Linked DNA regions of Homo sapiens: region 2 is linked to region 1. The links come from fine-mapping of genetic effects on plasma protein levels. A gene starts in region 1. The other region holds a variant in brackets. All regions are shown on one strand. Distances are from middle to middle. Region 1 holds the start of TCN1 (transcobalamin 1). Region 2 overlaps TCN1 (transcobalamin 1).

What was found. PIP is the posterior inclusion probability: the model's chance that the variant is causal. Protein levels are from the aptamer-based SomaScan assay of Sun 2018.
Region 2: its variant is fine-mapped to the plasma level of the TCN1 protein (Sun 2018, PIP 0.95). The variant lies in the coding sequence of TCN1. If it changes the protein, the assay may bind it differently, which can mimic a change of level.

What each region holds. Positions count from the first base shown.
Region 1 is chr11:59,863,446-59,868,833 of GRCh38, forward strand. It overlaps TCN1 (transcobalamin 1), which reads right to left and starts at 3,042. Exons shown (of 9, transcript NM_001062.4): 1 at 2,947-3,042; 2 at 462-641. The coding sequence starts at 3,025.
Region 2 is chr11:59,852,729-59,858,116 of GRCh38, forward strand. TCN1 (transcobalamin 1) reads right to left here. Exons shown (of 9, transcript NM_001062.4): 6 at 3,141-3,330; 7 at 1,924-2,107; 8 at 475-593; 9 at 80-308. The coding sequence ends at 247. Among named protein-coding and RNA genes, the nearest start is that of CBLIF, 9.9 kb to the left of the region's middle. The variant C/A (reference allele first, on the strand shown) is at 3,177.

The sequences.
Region 1 (5,388 bases):
ATTATGAGGTAGGTAAGAGTGGCTTCTTTTCCCCTTATACTAATTAGAAAACTGAGGCTCAGTATTAACATGACTGGTTCAAGGCCCACCCATACCTAGTTCAAATCTGGGTTGTTCCATGGTTGCCTTTCCATCACCAGCTTTCTTAGTTATGATCTGTATTCCCATGTGGTTGTGAACTAAGCTAGCTTATATAACAGCATTAATGGATAAAAATCCATAGCTTTTGTTTGTGGCTTCTTGAAGAAAAGTGGTTTTTAAGACCAAAAGAAGCAAGACCTAGCTCTAGGGTGAATGGCATGGGATTGTATTTTGGGCATGTTTCTGTTACCTCAAGTTTGGTACCATTAGAAGGGATGTAGCAGGGATACTTTGGATGCATAATTTTTTAGGATTAGTTGCAGATAATCTTTAAATAGGTAGATTTTTTTCTAAATCTTCCAGAATATACAGCAACTTACATCTGCTTTTCACATTGTATTTGATTTGTTGGATCATCTTTTGCATCAGGGTTTGGATCTGGATTCCAACAAGTTTGAGGGACAACACAACATTGACAGCGCTGGTTCCCCTGTTATAGTTTGACTGGATCATTGTATTCAACAGAGGTTTTAGGCGGATGTAGTTTTCTTCACTTACCTCTGTGGCAGAGAAGGAAGGAAATAAGAAACACATACTCAGAAAATAGTAAGACTTGCAGCAGGGGTTATATAAAAATATTTAGTAACAGATATGGCACAGACCTAGACCAATCCAGTGGCTGCAGACTGTGTTGGTGGAATAATACAAAGGTGGGTCTTGAACCCACCCCCATGCCAGACATTACTCCTTTAACAACCAACATGAAAATGTTTTAATATTTTAACAACTGGTGCAGACTTATCATTGTGTACTGGCAGACTCCTGCCTGGGAAATCTAGCATCATTCCCTAATTTTGTATATGAAGCTTAGATAGATTGTCCTTAAAGAAACTTCCATAATTGGAGGCTGAGCTGAAACTAGACTACATGTCTTCTGACTCTCAGTAAGCAGGACTTTCTACTTCCTGGATTCAGTTCTTTCCTTCTCCATCTTCTAAATCAACTGGGTTAATGTTGAGAAAATGCAGGTAATAATTCTGTGTTATACTGGTGATTGACCCCAAAACTTCATTGTCTGATTACCCAGCTGGCTGGGCATCGAGATCATTATTTAGCATTATGCAGCCTGTAAAAAACTCTCCAGTTTTAGCCTACAATATGCCCCAATTCCAGAGATGGAGGGAAGTCACATTATACTGTGGAAGTAGGAAAATCCATAGCTCCCAAGGAAATAGAGGAGAATAAAAAGATTTACTATTTATTTAAACACAGGACACTTTGTCAATGTATTTTTCCATAATCTTGAGGAGTAGCCCCAAATCCTACATATCTCCAGATTATCTAATGGATTAGTGGGAGAGTGAGAAGAACATGAGGTTTGGATTCAGATTTTGGCCACATTTTGTGCTCCTTAACTTATGACTGTGGATAATAACTTATGTAACTTGTTTTACTCTTAGTTTTCTCATTTAAAAATTGTGGCTGTTAACACTTACCTTACAGATATTGGACAAGAAACCACCGAATAAACTGTAAAATGCTGCACATACTATTATTTCCAGCTCAACTGGAGTTTTTATCACTATACTTGAGAATCAAGGAAATGTAATTTCTCTTGCCCAGTTTTCTTTACTTTAAAAGAATGAGTCAAGAAGATCTGAATAGAGTGATTGTAGAAAGGTCATGGTTTGTTGCAGACACAATGGAACAATTGTGAGTCAGTTCTCTGAGATTTTGTGGAACCATCCAGCTCAGCAGATTTTCTGGCCCTGAAACAGACTTTTTAGTTCCTGATCAACAACTCAAATCAGCTTCCTTGAGTCTCAAAGATAAATTTAATTATTATCATTATTATTTAAAATGAATTGAAAGCTAAAACCTACATAGCCATTCCCTATTCTTAGGATCCAACAGGGGAAATGTCAAGCCAAGAAGAAAAATCAGAGTCAGAAGAGTCTATGCTTTAGCCTGTATGTATACAAGCCTGTCTTCTGTGGTGTTCTCTTCTTACTGGTTAGAGAGCACAGATAGTACCACCTAGTAATCTTTGGACTGGTTTGAAGCTCAATTTCAGAGTAAAGTCTCACAAAAGAGAATTCATGCACTTGAGAACTGCACCAGACTTCATGAGATAATTTGCTTCAATAGTCTCCCCTCATTATCCTTTATTTATGAATGAAGCTAAAGAAATTCAGAAATGTTGGGTCATTCAATAACTAAGGGATCAAACTAAACCTGAATTTAGTTTTCCCTTCTCTTACTTTAAAGTTCTTTTACAGAACCACACAATCTCTGGGGTCAACACCCATGCAAGAGATGATGGAACTTTATCCCATGTGTCCTGGGAAAGAGTTGAAGGAAGGTGGACATGCAACTTGGAACATCTAAACTCACTCATGACAAGACAGCAGTCATCACTATTTGAAAGAGATTATTATTTTTTTCTATGTAGTTACAAGGGGTTAACCCAAAAATCATGCATTGAATTTCAGGGAAAAAAGATTGCATATCAAGACCAAAAGATAACTTTCCATGATCTAGAAAAGTTTCTGGGAGCATAAATTTTCTGTCATTGAAAAGTCACATGAATAGGGAGTTACTTGGTAGGGATGCTGTGCTAGAGAGGATCTGAGCATAGAAAGAGCAGTTAGGCAAGTGAATACACAATCTATAATTCCTCTTACAACAACATGCATTGTGAGACTTTCCTCACCATCTCCTGCCACCCTTTTCATCATTCATGGAGTCCAACCACATACGAAACTGGAATGGGATCTTTTCTCAGGTAACTCTACATAGAGTCTCTTGTCAACAGTTTTCAGTAGACTATCACTCTAGAGTAATTTTAGCTCAAAGTTTACTCACCACAAATCTCGCATAGTTGGCTTGGAATAAAAGAAAACAGTAAGAGCCCCACTAGGGGCAGCTGGTGTGACTGTCTCATCTCTCCAACAGTGTACCAGAATGTTGATGAATTGGCTGGCTATTTATTAAGTGATGGGCAGAAGGTAATGAGAGCTCCTCCTTCAGGTTGCCTCAGCCTCTTTTCACTCAAGCAAATATTGAGCAATGTCAGGAGGTGTGGTCAAGTGTATTTGTCCATGTGATGTAATAAATAAGGAAGAAGACTTGAAGGATGTGGTTAGGGAGAATAAGGCAATAACTTTCCTTTGTCTCCTGTCCTAAACCTTCGGGTTTCATATCTATTATTTGCCTTCCGTGCAGTGAAGATATATTAGGCAAATGACTGTTTCCTATAATCTTTCCTTTTTTTTCCGTTTCACTTTATGTTTTATGTTTCCTGATAAAGTAGATTTGATCATGCAAACACATACAACATATAAAAATGGAAGTAAAAGAAGACATCCAAATGGGAAGCAGGCATATGAAAAAGTGCTTGAAAAGGTGCTTAACATCATTGATCATCAGATAAATGGAAATCAAAGCTACAATGAGATATCCTCTCATCTCAGCTAAAAATGGCTTTATTCAAAACACAGGCAATAACAAATGCTGGCACGGATGTAGAGAAAAGGGAAGCCTTGTACACTGTTGGTGGGAATGTAAATTAGTACAATCACTATGGAGAACAGTTTGGAGCTTCCTCAAAAAACTAAACATAGAGCTACCATATGATCCAGCAATCCCACTGCTGGCTATATACCCAAAAGAAAGAAGACCAGTATATTGAAGAGATATCTGCACTCCCATGTTTGTTGCAGCACTGTTTACAATAACCAAGATTTGGAAGCAAGCTAAGTGTCTATCAACAGATAAATGAACACAGCAAATGTACATATACACAATGGAGTACTATTCAGCCATATAAAAGAATGAAATCCTGTCAGTTGTGACAAAATGGATGGAACTGGAGATAATTATGTTAAGTGAAATAAGCCAGGCACAGAAAGACATACATTGCATGTTCTCACTTATTTGTGGGATCTAAAAATCAAAACAATTGAATTCATAGAGATAGAGAATGAAAAGATGGTTACTGGGGGCTGGGAAGGCTAGTGGTGGGAAGGAGATGCGGAGGGTTAATGGGTACAAAATATTGGAAAGAATGAATAAGACCTACTATTGGTAGCATAACAGGGTGACTATAGTCAATAATAATTTAATTGTACATTTTAAATAACTAATAGTATAACTGGATTGTTTGTAACGTAAAGGATAAATGCTTGACAGGATGAATACCCCCTTCTCTATGATGTGATTATTACGCATTGCATGCCTGTATCAAAACATTTCATGAGCCCCATAAATATATACACCTACTATGTACCTACAAAAATTGAAATAAAAAAATTTAAAAACGGAAGTAAAAGTTGTAAGTCTGAAATTGAAGCAGGCAGTATTGGAGAACCCAGCACATGAGGGGATCTTTGGCATAGTGGTTTCCAAACTATGATTTTTCTCCTAAGATAGATTCCATGAGAGTTTCCTAACCAAGGAGGAAAACCAGAGAGCTATACATCAAATGTGAATTTCTGCCCTGCCAGGGCAGTTGCTACATGTGAGAAGTGTTGCCTATCACAGTTCTTCTGAGAACTATTAGAGAATACTGTCAGCCTAGCTAAGGATGTCATGACTTAATGAGCCACTATTTGCATTGTACCTCTGTGATGGTTAATTTTCTGTGTCAACTTGACTGGCACCTGAGTGCCCAGATTAAACACTATTTCTCGATGTATCTGTGAGGGTGTTTCCAGATAGGATTAGCATTTTAATTGGTGGACTCTGGAAAGTAGAATGCCGTCTCCAATGTAGGTGTGCATCAATCAATCTATTGAGACCCTGAATAGAATAAAATGGTGAAGGAAGGGGGAATTCACCCTTTTTTTGCTTCCTGCCAGCCTGTTTGAGCTAGGACATCTTATCTTCTCCAGCCCTCAAACTGAGATTTACACCATCGGCTCCCCTGGTTCTTGGGCTTTCAGTTTGGCCTGAATCACTCCACTGACTTTTACTGCATGCAGACAGTAGACTGTGGGACTTCTTAGCCTCCATAAGGGCATGAATCAACTCCTTGGAATAAATCTCTTTCTCTCTCTCACATATTTATATAAAACTTATGTGGAAACCACCATTCTACTCTCTGTTTCCATGTATTTGATAATTTTTAGAATCTACATATAAATGAGATCATAGTATTTGTCTGTGACTTATTTCATTTAGCATGATATTCTTCAGGTTCATCCATGCTGTCTCAAAGGGCACTATTTCCTTCTTTTTTATGGCTGAATACTATTCTATTATATAAATATAAATATATATATACACACACACACATATATGTGTGTG
Region 2 (5,388 bases), 11 kb before region 1:
AGTTTTTCCTTAGGTGGACTTTCCTCTAATACATTTTAAAATCCTTTCAGAATGAACTAATTAGAACATGCTCTTTTTGTATAGTTGTTAATCTTTCAACAACTTTTATTGAACATGTAGAGAGAGAAGGGGAGGTTATTAACTCTCCTGCTCGTACTGGGATAAATGAAGAAGAAGGCATAAGGACAATAAACATGGAACTCCACTGCAAATGGATTTTATGCAGCTGAGGAAAGTTTGGGCTTATTAGTATTTGCTCCAGCGAACCTCCAAGTTTTCTCCATTGCGGACAACGTAACTACCAGCTCCTGAAAAGGAAGAAGAAAGAGAACTGGGTCAAATGATTTGGCCACTAAATCACCAAATAATGGATGTCATCTCTACTAACCCCTTGGCCCAATCCCCACAGAGGCTCACACCCCTCTCCATTTGGGCATTTTTAGCATGGGTCTTTTTGGCATGTCTCTCCCTTACCTTGGCTCAGTGGTTCGCCTCCACTCAGAAGTTCCCAGTAGGTTCTGTCATTATTGTTGGCACATAGGCCCTGAATACAGGTGATATAGGGCCCCCATGAGCGCTCCTCCATTGTGAAACTGTGGGTGACAGCAAGTAGGTTACTGGAACTTAGAATTGTCAAAGGAAACCAACAATAGGCATTTCTCAAACTTTAATGTACCTGAGAATCACTTGATGACATTATAAAAATGCAGATTTCCTGGCCCTATCCATAGATATTTTTATTTTTAGATATGAGCTGGGGATCAGGAATCTGCATGCTTTATAAACACTCCAGCTGATTCTAATGCAGGCACTCCACACTCCATGCTAAATTAGAGAAATGATGCTCATGGTTTCTGCTCTCCCCACCTGCCATGGTAGATAGGTTTCAGATAACAGCTTCAACCTTCCACCCCAAGATAGTAACTGCTAAAGATACTGATTCAGTAGAAGAACATATGATCCTCATGTGCTAGAGACACCATAAGTTACTGAGTTTTCCCTTAGAAAAGAGGAACAGGAAAGGATAATTTGATATTTCATATTGTGTTTATTAAAAAGTGACAGGTCAGTATCTGTTTTATATTCCGTAGTCATTTTTCTACCTCCCTTAAAGCCCTTGAGGGTAGCCTTTATAATGTATATTATATTATTATTCTGATTTTCTTTATAGCATCCTACACTGTGTTGTTAGATATGATAAATAACTGTCAACTAGAGTTAAGGAGCCAAATAAGTCATACTTTTCAGAGGCAAAGCCATTATTTTAATTTTAATACTTGACCTCCTTGACCAGTTACTTTAGTTTGGGGATCTATGAGTTTTCTGAAAGCGAGGGCAGGGAGAAGCTTCAGGGTATCTGTGAAACCCTCAGTTGAAATGCTAAATTTGGCAGTGGCTCATGCCTGTAATCCCAGCACTTTGGGAGGCTGAGGTGGGCAGATCTCTTGAGCCCAGGAATTCAAGACCAGCCTGTGCAACATAGTAAGATGCTGTCTGTAAAATAAATAAATAAACAAATGCCAATTTTTGTGTGTATGTTCATTTTTTTCCTGGATGAACATTCATTACATTCACTTGATTTTCAAAGGGGTCCGTGATTCAAAAAGAGTTAAGAACCACTGTTCTAGATCTCAAATGTTTGACTTTAGAAGTTACATTTATTGCAAGAATTTTACTGAAATAAGAGAGAGCCCTGAGATTCATTAATTTATTTAGCGAACATTAATTTACTACCTATTATGTGCAAGAAGATGAAATACCTCACCTCCTATTTTAAACTCCTGCTGTGAGATGTAGATGGACAGCAAAGCTACTGACCCAGAAGCATTTTAAATATACTTTGTATTTAGGTGCAAATGCATTCTTACTGCATCTTTAGAAATGACAGCAAACATCTTAACCTTAGGTTAGGTACAGACCTACCCAAATATAGTATCATTCATTTTCTGGGCTTTCTCCATCACACTGAGGAAGACAGAACCATTTAGCACAGTGACATTGGTGAAATATGTTTCATTGATTCTCACAGAGTAATTGACGGAGATATATGATTGTGAGTCAGGAGGTGTCACAGTTATAGGCTCATCAGCGGAGATGTTGAAGTTACCTGGCAGAGACAGAAAAGCCCAGAGCAATATTCAGAAAAATAAAAATGATATTAGAGTTTGCAGACCTACTCAACCCCTATCCAAGGACTCCTTGCCTTTATGCAGACACGGATTTACTATAAGGAGCAATTATCATCACTCAAGGGGCAAATTTCTCATATAACTAAAGCAGAAACTAAGACCCAAACTCACCAGCTTGTGAATGTTGGCACTTGGCTCAACTCCCAGCTGTTTAAGCAATTCAGTTGCTCTAACTTCTGTTTCTCACAGAGGATCCTGATTTTTTTTTTCTTTTTTTGCCTTGGTACAGCATACAATAATGCTTGTCTTTTCTCCTTTTTATTGCTTAACGTTTATTGAAAACATATGAATTGCCAGGCACTATACTAATCATTTTACATGGATTGTCTCATTCAATCTTTACAAAAACCTATGTTAGGTACTGTCCTTGTTCCCAACTTTTACATTAGAAAACTGAAGCTTAGAGGTTAAACATTTTGTCCAAGTTTCCTAAACCTGTGAGTGGCTGAACCAGGAATGGACAGAGATATAAGACAATGTCTCCTTTCCTTCTACCTGGTTGCAAGGTCATTTTTTGAATAAGTAATGCATGCTACAATTTTTGAATACTGGCATATCACTTCCACACAGATGTCTCATTTCCCTAAGGGATCACTCACTGTGCAAAGTCAGAGTCACGGTACCAATACTCCATACTTTATTTAGGATGAGAATGATGCTCAGATCCTTCTATATCCAACAGTCAGAAAATACACCTTTGGAGATAGACATTATTTAATCAGGTCTGCCTTGTTAATGTTTGAACTAAGAGGGACATCTAGCACTCAGTTAAGAACAAATCCTCAGGTGACTGTAAACCCTGGTAACATGAGGAAAACTGAATTCTCTCTGGCAACTGTTATGTTTTGGAGGTTTATCTGGTCACTTTTGGTTTCAAAGGACACCTGAATCTCACATGCTTTGGGTGCTATGGTGAAAAGCGAAACAGTGTGCTCTCTTTAATGCTTATACCTGAAGCAGAGACGCAAGAAGAGTCTTTGTTAATAT[C/A]CAAGAAGGTCTTTCCCATCAGGGCAGGTAAGACCTGGGCTGCAGCGTTTGGATTGCTGAATGCTCCTTGAGAAATTTCCGTGAGCACTGTATTCAGAGTTTGTTGGCAATTCCAGTCATTTTCATTATAATAGTCTGATGATACAAAGAGGGCCTAATGAGGCAGGGTGGGGTGGGGGGGTGATGAGAGATAAAGAGAGACAGAGAGAGAATATGAGACACTTCAAATAAGGGGGAAGCCTTATCTATAACTATATATGTAACTAATTCAGTATTAATTGAACATTGACTACCTAGGAAGCACCTCAGATAACTCAGTTATCTTTCTTGTTATCCAGAAGCTTATAAACTAGTTTGGGCAGGGAGGTTGGAACTGCTTAATAACACAAGCTATAATAGTTCCAATGAAGGCAGACTTTGCCACATTCATTTCTGTATCCCAGTGCTGGGAAATACCTGTCATATAGGAGACACTCAATAAATATTAACAAACTACTGTAAAAGGAGTTGCCAGAGGAATGCCCTAAGGGATGCATCTAGTGGGATGCCTCTTTCAAAAGAGGAGAGGAGCTCACAAACATTTAATGAAGCTAAAAAAAAAAAAGCTTCCTGGAGAAGGTGGTATTTGAGTTAGGCCTTGGAGAGTAGGATAGAGCACTCAAGAGGAACAACATGAACAAAGGTGTTAGGTAGGAATGGCCAGGACATGACCTGGCAATGATGACAGTATCTGCATTTTAGCAAAGTTCCTCAGGGGATTCCTCCTGGTTTAGGAGAACTGATGTATGGGGAACATTGGAGGCAACTGTGGAAAAACAGGCTGGAGAAGGAAGTTGGGCTAGACTAGTAGATGCTTGAATTTTATGATGAGATGTCTGACCTCATTTGATTGACAACGATGAGGAGGTGTCTGACATTATTTGATTGACAATGGGGAGTCTAATTGTTCATTAAACAGAAACTCTCCTGGCAGCAGAATGTAAGCTTGATTGAAGGGGCAGAATTGTGAGGTAGTAAAAGTTAGGAGGGCATTGGGGTAAGCAAGACAGGAACTAAGGTGGGTCGGACTTGAACATGCTGCTCTGTAGTTTCCCAGGGATGGACAGTTCCTGTTTTCATCTTTTCTTGGAGGTTCTTAAGCTAACCAAGTTGTCCACAAGCATTTGTGGGATATTAAGAAAAAAGAAAAACTGGTCATAGTACATTTCCTCTTAAGACACGTCAATAAATGTTATTCACATACATAACAATAAATTAAATGTTATTAATATTTAAAAATACCCAACAATGTGTTGTAGGCAATTAGCTCTTGATCCTACTGTGAATTTGTATCACCTGTAGGGCTTTTAAACCAGAGCAAGGCCCAGGCTCCACCTCTAAATTTCTGTACTACCTGGCTGGTGTGGGCCTGGGTATTAGTGTTTTCTAAGAGCTCCTTCAGGTGATTCAAATATGCAATGAAAATGGGAAAGCAGTTTATATTCAGTTCAAACTTAGTAAGGCAATCAACAACATAAATAGTAACAACAACAATACAGATAACCTTATGACTGGACCCGTGCTTACACCTCCAGCCTCCTGTTATGTTTCCCAAGGACTCTGTGCTGGTCATGCCGAACACCTTGACCTTAAAATGCCTAACATTCTTTTGTGCTTTTGGGTCTTTGTCCTCACTGTCGTCTCTCCCTTGAAAGTCCTCTAGCCCTGAGTCAGCCTGGAAAATATCTATTCATACTGATGATGCAGTAAAGTTTTTTTTTTTTCTGTAAACCTTCCTTGATCGCTTCTTATATCATCCCCTTAGAGTTTGTAAATCAATGGCTGAATGAATGCAGGAATAAAGTCTCAGACCTCAAAGAGCATATGCACGACAGTGTAGGTGCTGAGTGTGAGTTTTGAGAACAACAGCCCAGGTCCCATCCCAATCTACACCACTTTCTGGTTTTGTGAGATTAGTTAGATTACTGACACAGTTACTGTGACTCATGCTCCTAGTTTAGGAAATGGAGGTGATGGGGTAGTTTGCTCTTATCAGCGGGGGATACATTCCAAGACCTACAGTGGATGCCTGAAACCATGGATAGTACTGAGCCTTAAATATACTATGTTTTTTCCCTATACATCCACTCCTATAATAAAGTTCAGTTTATAAATTAGGCACAGTAGGAGATTAACAACAGCAATAATCAAATAGAACAATTATAATAATATA